Regions from separate parts of the Homo sapiens genome. Here region 1 is linked to region 2. Evidence: fine-mapped expression QTL. Tissue or cell type: skeletal muscle. Region 2 holds a variant in brackets; the other region holds the start of a gene. All regions are shown on one strand. Distances are from middle to middle.

Evidence for each region. PIP is the estimated chance that this variant, and not a neighbour inherited with it, causes the effect.
Region 1: LRCH3 starts here. The variant in region 2 is the best candidate, but not a certain one, in a credible set for the expression of LRCH3 in skeletal muscle (FUSION, PIP 0.51).

The regions. Positions count from the first base shown.
Region 1 is chr3:197,788,929-197,794,667 of GRCh38, reverse strand. LRCH3 (leucine rich repeats and calponin homology domain containing 3) reads right to left here and starts at 3,414. Exons shown (of 21, transcript NM_001365715.1): 1 at 3,128-3,414. The coding sequence starts at 3,389. RefSeq lists enhancers at 507-586, 3,227-3,426, 3,040-3,754 and a silencer at 2,917-3,186.
Region 2 is chr3:197,883,661-197,889,399 of GRCh38, reverse strand. It overlaps LRCH3 (leucine rich repeats and calponin homology domain containing 3), which reads right to left. Exons shown (of 21, transcript NM_001365715.1): 21 at 964-5,739. The coding sequence ends at 5,734. It overlaps DRC9 (dynein regulatory complex subunit 9), which reads left to right. Exons shown (of 12, transcript NM_032263.5): 12 at 1-323. Among named protein-coding and RNA genes, the nearest start is that of RPL35A, 64 kb to the left of the region's middle. The variant C/T (reference allele first, on the strand shown) is at 2,330.

The DNA.
Region 1 (5,739 bases), 95 kb after region 2:
AGTTCAAAATCATGTCTAATTATAAATATGGGCAATATATGCTGTTCCCTAGGATACGAATTTGAAGGACAACAGCTCTACCATGTACATGCTACACATTATGAAAAAACAGTATGCAAGGCAACTTTTATATATTAGCATTCAACTAATTTTACTTGGCTTTAAATTTTCTATAAGGTCTAAGCATACCTAATAACTACCATAAGTTGGTTCCAAATTAATCAAAGTACCTGCCATAAAAACAGACTATGGCTTTTGGAGTCACCTCAAACTAGACTAAACTCCTGGCTAATACCGTCTCCTCTGTCCTTTAGCCACAGATCTTTGAGCAAATTAGTGAACATCTCTAAATGCTGGTTTCCACCATCTGTAAAAACAGGAACAGCAACACCTATTTCTATATGAAGAGGTTGCATGGTACAGTGGAAAGAACAGAGTTAGATGAACCTGGGCCAAAATCCTACCACTGATACTACATAGTGGTGATAGCTATAACCTGGGCCAAAATCCTACCAGTGATACTATATAGTGGTGATAGCTATAACCTGGGCCAAAATCCTACCAGTGATACTATATAGTGGTGATAGCCATATGACTTTCTCTAGGTGATCCCTCACATGTAAAGTGGGGATAGTATTTAATCCACAAATTATTGTGTGCATTTAACAAGGCAGTATATTTCAAAATATCTAACACGGTGAATTACAAATAGTGAACACTCAATAAATGATGTCATTGGCATTAAATTATCTGTTTAAAACAGAGACTGGGTAACGAGCAAGGTCTGCCAAAGATTTTTTTTTATATTTCATAAGTGATATTACTACATGTTAGAAATGAATCTAGTCTAATAGCTTATAAAATACCTTGTAATCTTTTTATTTTCTTTTTACACGTTTTGACCAGATGAAAAATCAACCAACAAAAAATGTGGTTTCTATACAAAACTATTAAAGTGTAGGCAACACCATACTTAAAAACTCAGAGCACAGTAAGGAAAAACCTCTTTGGTATTACTTATTATTCTTCATAAATGCACTTGGATTTTCTTAGTCAATAAAATATTTAAGGACTCAACACGGTGCTCCTAGACCTACTGAAAAGCAGGTGAGAAAATGAGCTAGACAGACTCCTGTAATCAACTTGTTCTTTAGCTTCAGGCTTGATGTAGTAACAATGAAATGACTCACACCAATATGAAATCACTATACCATATAGCCATCTCCTAAACAGAAGCAGGAAATCTGAGGTGTGAATGATAATTTTACATGCCGTCTACCAGAACACACACAAAAGGAAAGTGGCTGCTCATATTTACCTTAGCAAGAAACTTTAAATCACTAAAAAATATTCAGTTCAACTGTTTCCAAAAAGAGATTAAATAAGCAGGCATTTAATTTCTTCTATTTTAAACTACAGCAAAAGTTTCTTTGGAAAGAATCGCTTCTTTAGTTTAACAGTTCTGTTTATTTTTCCAAAATGAGTGAATCATATGTAATACTTATAAATTTTTAATGACTGCAAAGCATAGAAAATGTGCTCAATCTAAGATTTTAAAATAAAATAAGACACCAAGTACTGCCAGCCGCAGTGGCTCACGCCTGTAATCTCAACCTTTTGTAAGGCCGAGGTCGGCGGATAGCTTGAGCCCAGGAGTTGGAGACCAGCCTGGGCAACATAGCAAAACCCCGTCTCTACAAAAAAATACAAAATATTGGCCGGACGCGGTGGCTCACGCCTGTAATCCCAGCACTTTGGGAGGCCGAGGCGGGCGAATCACCTGAGGTCAGGAGTTCGAGACCTGCCTGGCCAACATGGTGAAATCCCGTCTCTAATAAAAATCCAAAAATTAGCCGGGTGTGGTGGCGGGCGCCTGTAGTCCCAGCTACTCGGGAGGCTGAGGTGGGAGGATCACCTGAGCCTGGGAGGCAGAGGTTGCAATGAGCAGAGATTGTGTCATTCCACTCCAGCCTGGGAGACAAGAGCGAGATACCGTCTCGAAAAAATATATATATATTTTATATATAATATTTATATGTATATTATATATATATGTATATTTTATATATATATATATATATATATATATAAAATTAGCTGGGCGTGGTGGCGGCTGCCTGTAGTCCCAGCTACTCAGGAGGCTGAGGTGGGAGGATCACCTGAGCCCGGGAGGTCGAGGCTGCAGTGAGCAGTGATGACGGCACTGCAAACATGATGATGAACAACTCGGGCACCAGACACTGTTCGCCACAACTAAGAAAGCCAAATAATACCTACTTTCTTATTCTCTTTCCTGTGTTCGAAAACATACATAACACGAAGTAATGCTTTAAAAAGGAATAGCAAGTACAAATATGTTAGACTATCTTTTCTAAGTAGTTTGCTTCAACTTTTTTTTGGAGGACATGAGGAGTGGAAGAGGAAACTAATGGGAGTCGGAAAGTGGGCTCTAGTTATTTTTACAAGCGTATTTATTTTGTAAGTCAACTAGATGGAGGCGAAGAAAGACGTTCCAGCGTTCGGGTTCACTTCACACACACCCCAGCACTTCTTTGGGGTTCACTTTAAACACACACACACCCCAACACTTCTCTCGGGTTCACTTTAAACACACACACACCCCAACACTTCTTTCGGGTCCACTTTAAACACACGCTCCCCAACACTTCTTTCGAAAAAACTCCAGGGCTGAGACCGACCCTTCCTGACAATGCAGCTCGTCCAGACACCCCTGCTACTCTGATCTGTGAAGAGCTCGCGCTAACGTTCCCGTCTTAGCAGGTCCATTCGGCACCCCAAATCCGAAAGGGCCTGCAGAAACCGGGGCGGGGCAAGGGTCTACCTCCGCCGTGGCAGAAACTGATTTTCCTCAGAAAGCCTAAAAAATCATCCATCAATCACTCCGGCCCCCTTCCCCGAGAGATGCCGCCGCCCGCCGCCTCTCCCCAGGCTCTGGGTCTGGCGCAGGCCCGGAGGGCTGGCGCCGTCGGCTTCTCCCCGTTACCCGGGTCCGGACCCGGCGCCTACGGGACGAGCTGCTGTAACTCCCCCGCATCCGCCTCCCCCGGCCGGGGCGGCTCCCGGCGCCGGGTCTCCGACGGGCAGAGACGCCCCCCGCCCCGCTCACCCGCCCGGGTGGTGTCCGTCAGGTCGTGGTTGGCCGCTCCCCGGGGAAACTCCCTCAGTTTCCGGCCGCTCAGGCTCAGCACCCCAGTGACCGCCGCCTCCTCCAGGGCTCGATCGAGAGAGCGGCTCCACGAGCCCGGGCCAAAACCAGGGCCTGCCCCGGAGCTTGGGCCGCAGTGAACACCAGGGAGGTTACCTCCCGACGCTACCGTGCCAGAGTACTCGGCAGCCGCTGCCACAGCGACCAAGCCCGCGGCCGCCATTTCCCAGCCGACAACACTCGGGCCCGCCAGCTCAGCGCATGCGCGGCCGGACCGCTGGGTGGGCGGAGAAAGGGGCTCACGGACCGACCCCGGACGGTTCCCGTGATGGGCAGCACCGTGGTGCCCCCCGGCGCAGCCAGGCGCTTGCCCCCGCCCACATGATGCGCTTTTCAAGGGAAGTTAAAACGGACCTCACAAATCCAGAGCAGCCCCCTACTCTAACCTCCCAGGGGCATTTCTAAAATGCCTCTACAAAAACATCTTTCAGGCAACGCTCCGCATCAAAACTTCTCCGCCTTGCTCCCTCAGTAGTGGAGGAGTCGACTAAGCATTAAATTAAGAATTTTTTTTTTTTGAGACAGAGTCTCGCTCTGTCGCCCAGGCTGGAGTGCAGTGGCGCGATCTCGGCTCACTGCAACCTCTGCTTCCTGGGTTCAAGCTATTCTCCTGCCTCAGGCTCCCGAGTAGCTGGGACTACAGGCACGCACCACCACACCCGGTTAATTTTTGTATTTTTAGTAGAGACGGGGTTTCACCATGTTGGCCAGGATGGTCTCGATCTCCTGACCTCAAGTGATCCGCCCGCCTCTGCCTCCCAAAGTGCTGGGATTACAGGCGTGACCTACCGCGCCCGGCAAGGAATCTTTCTTAACACTGCTGCTGCAGAAACTTGGATGGTGAGAGGAGCGGACCCTCTGAGATACGACCTAAACCGTTTCCCAACTTCATTGTATTACCAGATGATCTAAATCAAGGTTTGGTGGACTTACTATGGTTGCTGGAGAGAAAACAAACAAACAAACGTGCTAATTGGGCTCAAAATTCTCATTAAAAACGTATTATTTTATATCATCCATCCCTTTTATAAAATAGCTTTTCTTAATGAAAATACAACAAATATCTTCAATAGTACTTGTACTTTTGGCAAGATTTTATTGTTGGATAAAGCAAGATTATAGTAGTATTAAAATCTAAAATGTTGGTCTGGAACCAAAATTGAGGAACAGAAAATGATCTCACTGTAATCTAAATGTGGGAATTAAAGGTAGAACCGAAGAGATGCTCTAAATTGAAACCACTCAAGAAATGAAAGAGTGGAAAATACTTCATTTAAAACCAATTAGACCTCACTTATATTGCAGCCAGTCTCTAGCATATTCTTCAGTCTGTTTTACTGAAGAAGCCATTTCTGCTATATGATGTAAATTTTACCAACAATTAATCAACTAGTTTTACTATGGGAAATAGAAGAGGCTGTCAGGTACAATCCTTTCCTAGAGGATCACAATCTAATTATGGAACCCAGACAGGCCCACAAAAAAGGGCTAAGAGTGATGGGGCTTACTTATGAGTCCAGAGAAAAGAAAGCTATATCATGGATAAATTCGGTTTTGAATTAAACCTGAAGGATTATAAAGTAGGACAAACTGGAAGGTGAGACTAGAAGATGGATCAGCATGAACACATCCAGATACGACTTAAAGTGGTAACATGTGGAGGATACGAAGGCCACAGATCAGAAAGTTCGTGTCAGAGAGCAAAAGAAAAATAAGGATGGAGAGATCCTCTCATTCAAGCCCCAACTCTTCAATGACACCTCAATTGGCATGAATTGCTAAATGCTAGAAGGTATAAAAATGTTTAATCCCAGTGCCAAAGTTGATTAGTAACAGCTGCCCAGAGAGCTGTTCTATAAACTCTCAATACATTCTAGTTACTTCAGCAACAAGTTCCATGATACATAACCATACATATGTTATGAGCTCATACATGTTATGAGCGTGGGTCACAATGGCAGGTGACGTATTTGTCATCCCCAGCAAATAACATTTATCCAATGCATATATAGCTTTTTGTTATCCTGGGCTTCCTAAAACTGTTATTCTTCGAAAGATATTAAGCTATTTAAGGGCAGTTTTTTTACTTTTTAGGGAGATTTCAACTACAATGACTGATTATCTATTCATATACTCCACACTAATGCTACAATGCTGTAGAATTAGTTGCCAGATGTACCTTTTCAAATGCACCATTGTCATCTGATTGCTTATTACCTTCCACATCTACACTAAATTCTGTCAAGTTCTCTGTAATAGGCCTCATTCCTATCTATATGTATGAATACATCCCATTGTAATAGCAACATACTATGCTAGCCCTGAACTGACCAAGCTTATAGATTGATGCTTGAATATTCAACAAGATTTTAAGGTCCTTAATATATTAAACTCTATGCTATCATAGGACTGAGTATATTTTTAGGAGTTAAAAAATTAGTCAACCCTTGCTTGTGCCTGTAATCCCAGCTACTTGGGAGGGTAAGGTGGGAGGATTGCTTGAGGCCAGGAGT
Region 2 (5,739 bases):
CAAACCCTGATTTAGGATTACACCATTGACTTAGGGCTTCCTCATACCTTGCTGGGAAGAAGTTTCTAGTAGTCCTGTGAAGATTCATTCTTCTTGCTCTTTCTCAGCAGAACAAAGGAGTTCACTGGCTTAGCTACAGTGACGCATTGAAACTTGAGTAATTCCTGTAATGTCAGATTTTGATTTTACCCAATTTGTCTGTAGTGAAAAAACTCTTATGAGCAAAAGTATTCAGTAGGAATTACAATATGATGTTATTAGCTGTCCAGCATAATATATACACAGCAAAGTTTTAATAAATGTTGGTTCCTGCCTGCCTTTTAGATTTATCGTCACTTTGGTGTTTTTATTCAGGTGAAAATGGCATGGAATACATATCCAGTTGTAAGCTGCTTCAGCAACTTTTCTAGGAAACAGGGATACAAATTATAAATACAAGCTAGAAATAGGATGTTAGGATATACAACTTTACAAACTATAAAGATGGGGACACAGGTTCTCTGGAAGGCTAGTTTGGAGATATTTTTGACAAGTGAAACACTAGAGCCACCAATCCCCACTTTATGGAGTGTTAAGATGAAAAGAAATCAGGTGTGTGAAAATATCTAACTTGTGCCTGGCAAATAGGAAAGCTGTCACTCTCCCTCTTCTCCTAGAAAAAAAATGCACCCACCAGATCATGCTTGCCTTGATGAGTCAAAACAATGCCTTGGGATGCTAAAGGTTTCCAAGAGCAAAGTTGTCCTAATGTGTCACATACATTTCATGAATTAAGCCTTCTATCTAACTCCAAATAAAGCTCAGTCTTGATATCTGTACTTCCTTAAAAAATGAATTTGATCTCAAAAGTTTGTCCCGAAGCCCCCATTTCCACTGACATTCCCTCTGGAAATGAGATGCTCTTTCCTTGATTCACCTTTGCCAAGGGAACCACACCTCAGGTATGAACACGCTCCAATCAGCTTTTATTACACGCCACTGAAGTGTTGGCTTTTATTTGAATGTCAATGTGTAAAGTGGCGTACAGGCAATTTAAAATAACATACATGATACTGACATATTTATACTTAGAACTTATGCAATATATTTACAGACAAAAATACAGGACAATGTTTTACAAAATCTTTCACTAATTACATGTTTACAACATTTTCAGAAATAAAACGAAATTTGCTGTAAACCATCTCAACTGCACTGTGTATATAGAAAGGCTTCTAAATATCCATGTTTTCATTTCTATAACCATTTAAGCGCTTAGTTTTTACGAATTCATCAAACTCATTCGCATAGTCACACATCATTAGTCACTGCTGAGCTGTAGAAAGTAAGAGAAATCGCAAACTCCTTGATTAGCTGTATTTTAAAAAGCTCTTCAGAAAAGTGATCTACTACTATGCTCTGTGTTCTAGCAGAATACAAAGGCCCCTCTTTCCATGGGTCGTTTCCAGACCTGGCTATTACAAGAGAACACTGGAGTGCTAAACACAGATTATGAGTCTGAAATACTGGGAAACTGCTGACAGAAAATCTCTGTACGTGGCAAGGGCTCTGCTGGGGGTGGCTCTCAACCCGACACTGTCAGTGATGGGAAGGGCTCTGCTAGGGGGGGCTCTCAGCCCCAGACACTGTCAGTGATGGGAAGGGCTCTGCTGGGGGGCTCTCAGCCCCAGACACTGTCAGTGATGGGAAGGGCTCTGCTGGGGGGCTCTCAGCCCCCAACACTGTCAGTGATGGGAAGGGCTCTGCTAGGGGGGGCTCTCAGCCCCAGACACTGTCAGTGATGGGAAGGGCTCTGCTAGGGGGGCTCTCAGCCCCCAACACTGTCAGTGATGGGAAGGGCTCTGCTGGGGGGCTCTCAGCCGCCAACACTGTTCAGTGATGGGAAGGGCTCTGCTGGGGGGCTCTCAGCCCCCAACACTGTCAGTGATGGGAAGGGCTCTGCTGGGGGGCTCTCAGCCGCCAACACTGTTCAGTGATGGGAAGGGCTCTGCTGGGGGAGCTCTCAGCTGCCGACACACTGTCAGTGATGGGAAGGGCTCTGCTGGGGGGCTCTCAACCCCCAACACTGTCAGTGATGGGAAGGGCTCTGCTTCAGGTCAGGGGAGCTGTGACAAGGTCATCTTCATCTTACACTGGAGTCAAGCAAAGCTAAATGTTAAACCGAATTGTGCTTTCCAATTTAAAAAAAAAAAGGTACATACAAAATACTGAATACAAAAATTCTCCCAACAAAAGCATCATGATTTGTTTTTGCATCTTGACATAAAAAAGAAATTCATACCTTCCTACCTCTGCAGAGGGTTTGAAAAAAGAGAAAAAAAATTCAAAG[C/T]ATTTGATATTTTTCCTTCAATTATCAGCCAAAACTGCACATGGTTTTTCCTAACAATTCAAATACAAATCTGATTTAGTTTGATAAAAATACATTAATAAGGTTTCATAATATGTGCAAAATTTGAAATAAGTTGAAATTTCCATTTATCCCTATGGGAAAATTAGTTGCAAATGTTGCAAGTATTGCATTATGTAATGTCTTCTAGAATTATTCCTTGCATAGTATATTTTTGGTTTGGTGGGTTTTTTTTTTTTTTTTTTTTTGAGACAGAGTCTCGCTCTGTTGCCCAGGCTGGAGTGCAGTGGCACAATCTCAGCCCACTGCAACCTTCGGCTTCCAGGTTGAAGCGATTCTTGTGCCTCAGCCACCCAAGTAGCTGGGATTACAGGTGCCCACCACCACGCCCAGCTAATTTTTGTATTTTTAGTAGAGACAAGGTTTCACCATGTTGGCCAGGCTGGCTTGCGTATGTTAAAAACAATCCTGTCCTTTGCTGAATTTCATTTCTGGTGGCATATAATTTGGAGACTGTACTGAGGCTTAATGTTGACAAACACAGTTTAAAAATGCACATGGCTAAATTCTAAACAAGTTATATAAGGGTATATAAGAGTTGGTGGGTCTGTTGGGAACTGTAAATATAATGGGGTCTTACATAAAGACATTTTACTTTTGTTCTATAAGATTGGGCATTGAAGTTAGATGTTGTACAATTTATTTTTAGAGATGGGGTCTCACTCTGTTGCCCAGGCTGGAGTGCAGTGGTGCAGCCATGGCTCACTGTAGCCTCAACCTCCCAGGCTCAAGTGATCCTCCCACCCCAGCCTCCTGAGTAGCTGGGAGTACAGGCAGGTGCCACCACACCTGGTTTTTTTTTTTTTTTTTTAATTTTTGGGAGACAGGGTCTTGCTATGTTGCCCAGGCTGCTCTCAAACTCCTGGGCTCAAGTGATCCTCTTGCCTCGGCCTCCCAAAGTGCTGGGATTATAGGCATGAGCCACCATGCCCAGCCTGTTATACAATTTTAAACCTGGTCAAGTGGTAATGTTCTGATGAATTTGTTTCTCTGCAAGAACAAGGAAGAAAACATTACTTTGACCAGGTATTCAACATGATTTGATCCAAAGCTACTTTTAGATGCTACATTTACCTGATAAAAAGAGGGATAACATTATGCCCAAATGGATGCATTGTAAAGAAAATCCAGAACAGTTAACAACTACAGAAACAAAAGAGATATCTTCCGCTTACTTTATTTACTTGTTTTACAAAGGCAGTGAACACCAAAGGATATCACCAACAACTAAAAGGAGTTCAAAATGCAGGGGAAGGAAAACTAGCTGAAACTTGAGTAAAGGCTCCTGTGCGGTGTGAGCCCTTGGGCCCTTTTCCTCCACCCATCATTGAGTATATAAAGGCGCTTGTGGTGGAGCGAGATGGGGCGCGTTTTCTTTTTTTGAGATGGAATTTCGCTTTTGTTGCCCAGGCTGGGGTGCAATGGCACGATCTTGGCTCACCACAACCTCCGCCTCCTGGGTTCAAGCAATTCTCCTGCCTCAGCCTCCCGAGTAGCTGGGATTACAGGCATGCACCACCACGCCCAGCTAATTTTGTATTTTTAGTAGAGACGGGGTTTCTCCATGTTGGTCAGGCTGGTCTCAAACTCCCAACTTCAGGTGATCTGCCCGCCTCAGCCTCCCAAAGTGCTGAGATTACAGGTGTGAGCCACCACACCCAGCTAGGAAGATGCTGTAAGTGCTTAAATTCAGCCACAGAAACTGGCAGTTACCTGAAAGAAATACAAGAAACTAGGCTTTTCCGAGCTAGAAGTGTATGTGCTGTAACTGCAATGTGTCTGCAGGCCCAGATGTCTGAGGAGCAGCAGGAGGGCGGGGAGGGAGGCTCAGTGAGACCAAGTGCGCTATCAGCTTCAGAATTTGGAAACTCTGTATAGAGAGAGGGCTTGTTGTTGATAATGTCTAGATAACGGGGTTTGGAACCTGTGTATAGAGGGCTTGTTGTTTATTATAATGTCCAGATAACAGGATGACATAGAACTATCTTCTATGATGGTATGACTGCAGTTGAAGGGAGGCCTAGAATACTGACCTTAAATACAACTCTATCTGTTTCACTGTTTTACTATGCAAAATCTGGGCCAGGCCCGATGGCTCACTCCAGTAATCCCAGCACTTTGGGAGGCTGAGGCGGGAGGATCAGTTGAGCCCAGGAGTTTCAGACCAGCCTGGGCAATACGGCAAGACCCCAACTCTTAAAAAAAAGAAGACTATGCAAAACCTAGGCCTTCTATATTATTTTTGTTTTGCCTTTGACAGAACAGTCCAACTCCTCATAATATAGCTTTTGATTTTAAATGTGGGTGAAAAATGCAGGGGGCCATTACCCTCCCCCGCAAACATACAAATATCTAGCTTTGAACAGTGGTTCCACTACATGAAAAACACGTGCAATGGGCCGGGCGCCGGGCGCAGTGGCTCACGCCTGTAATCCCAGCACCCTCAGAGGCCGGGCACAGTGGCTCACGCCTGTAATCCCAGCACTCTCGGAGGCCGGGCGCGGGGGCTCACGCCTGTCATCCCAGCACTCTGGGAGGCCGGGCACAGTGGCTCACGCCTGTAATCCCAGCATTTTGGGAGGCCGAGGCAGGTGGATCACTTGAAGTCAGGAGTTTGAGACCAGCCTGGCCAACATGACAAAATCCCATCTCTACTAAAAATACAAGAAAATTAGCCAGGCATGGTGGCGGGCACCTGTTGTCCCAGCTACTCGGGAGGCTGAGGCAGGAGAATCGCTTGAGCCCGGGAGGCGGAGGTTGCAGTGAGCTGAGATTATGCCACTGCACTCTAGCCTGGGCGACTGAGCAGAACTCCTTCTCCAACAAAAACAAAAACATGTGCAATGGTTGTTGAAAATGCAGATTCCTAGGCCTTACCCCAGCTCTACTGAATGTGAATCTGTATTTTAACAAATACTCCAGGAGAGTCTAATGAACAACCAAGTTTAGAAACCAGCAGACCAGTTGTCTTGAGACCAGGTAAAAACAATGGCACAGCATGCTTGTGCCTAACACAGAAGATGTGCTTTCTGGCACGTGAAACACGCCTGCTCTCCAGGAAAACACAGCCAAGTTAGGTGCTGGGTTTTCAGTAAGAGAAGTTTCATCTGAGAAAACCAATGGTGTCTTCGTAAAAAAATTCAATGGAAATGGAAATAACCTCCCCTAAAATGGAGAAATGAAGCAAAATATTCCTGTTAGGAATCATGGGAACGGTCCCTTCTGAGAACACACAAGAGCTTTGTTTAAGCAGACAGCTGGCAGCAGCAATCACGGTGTCCTGTTCCTTGTTTTGGCCAGGCCAGTGCCCACCGTCCTGGGGATCCTCAAAC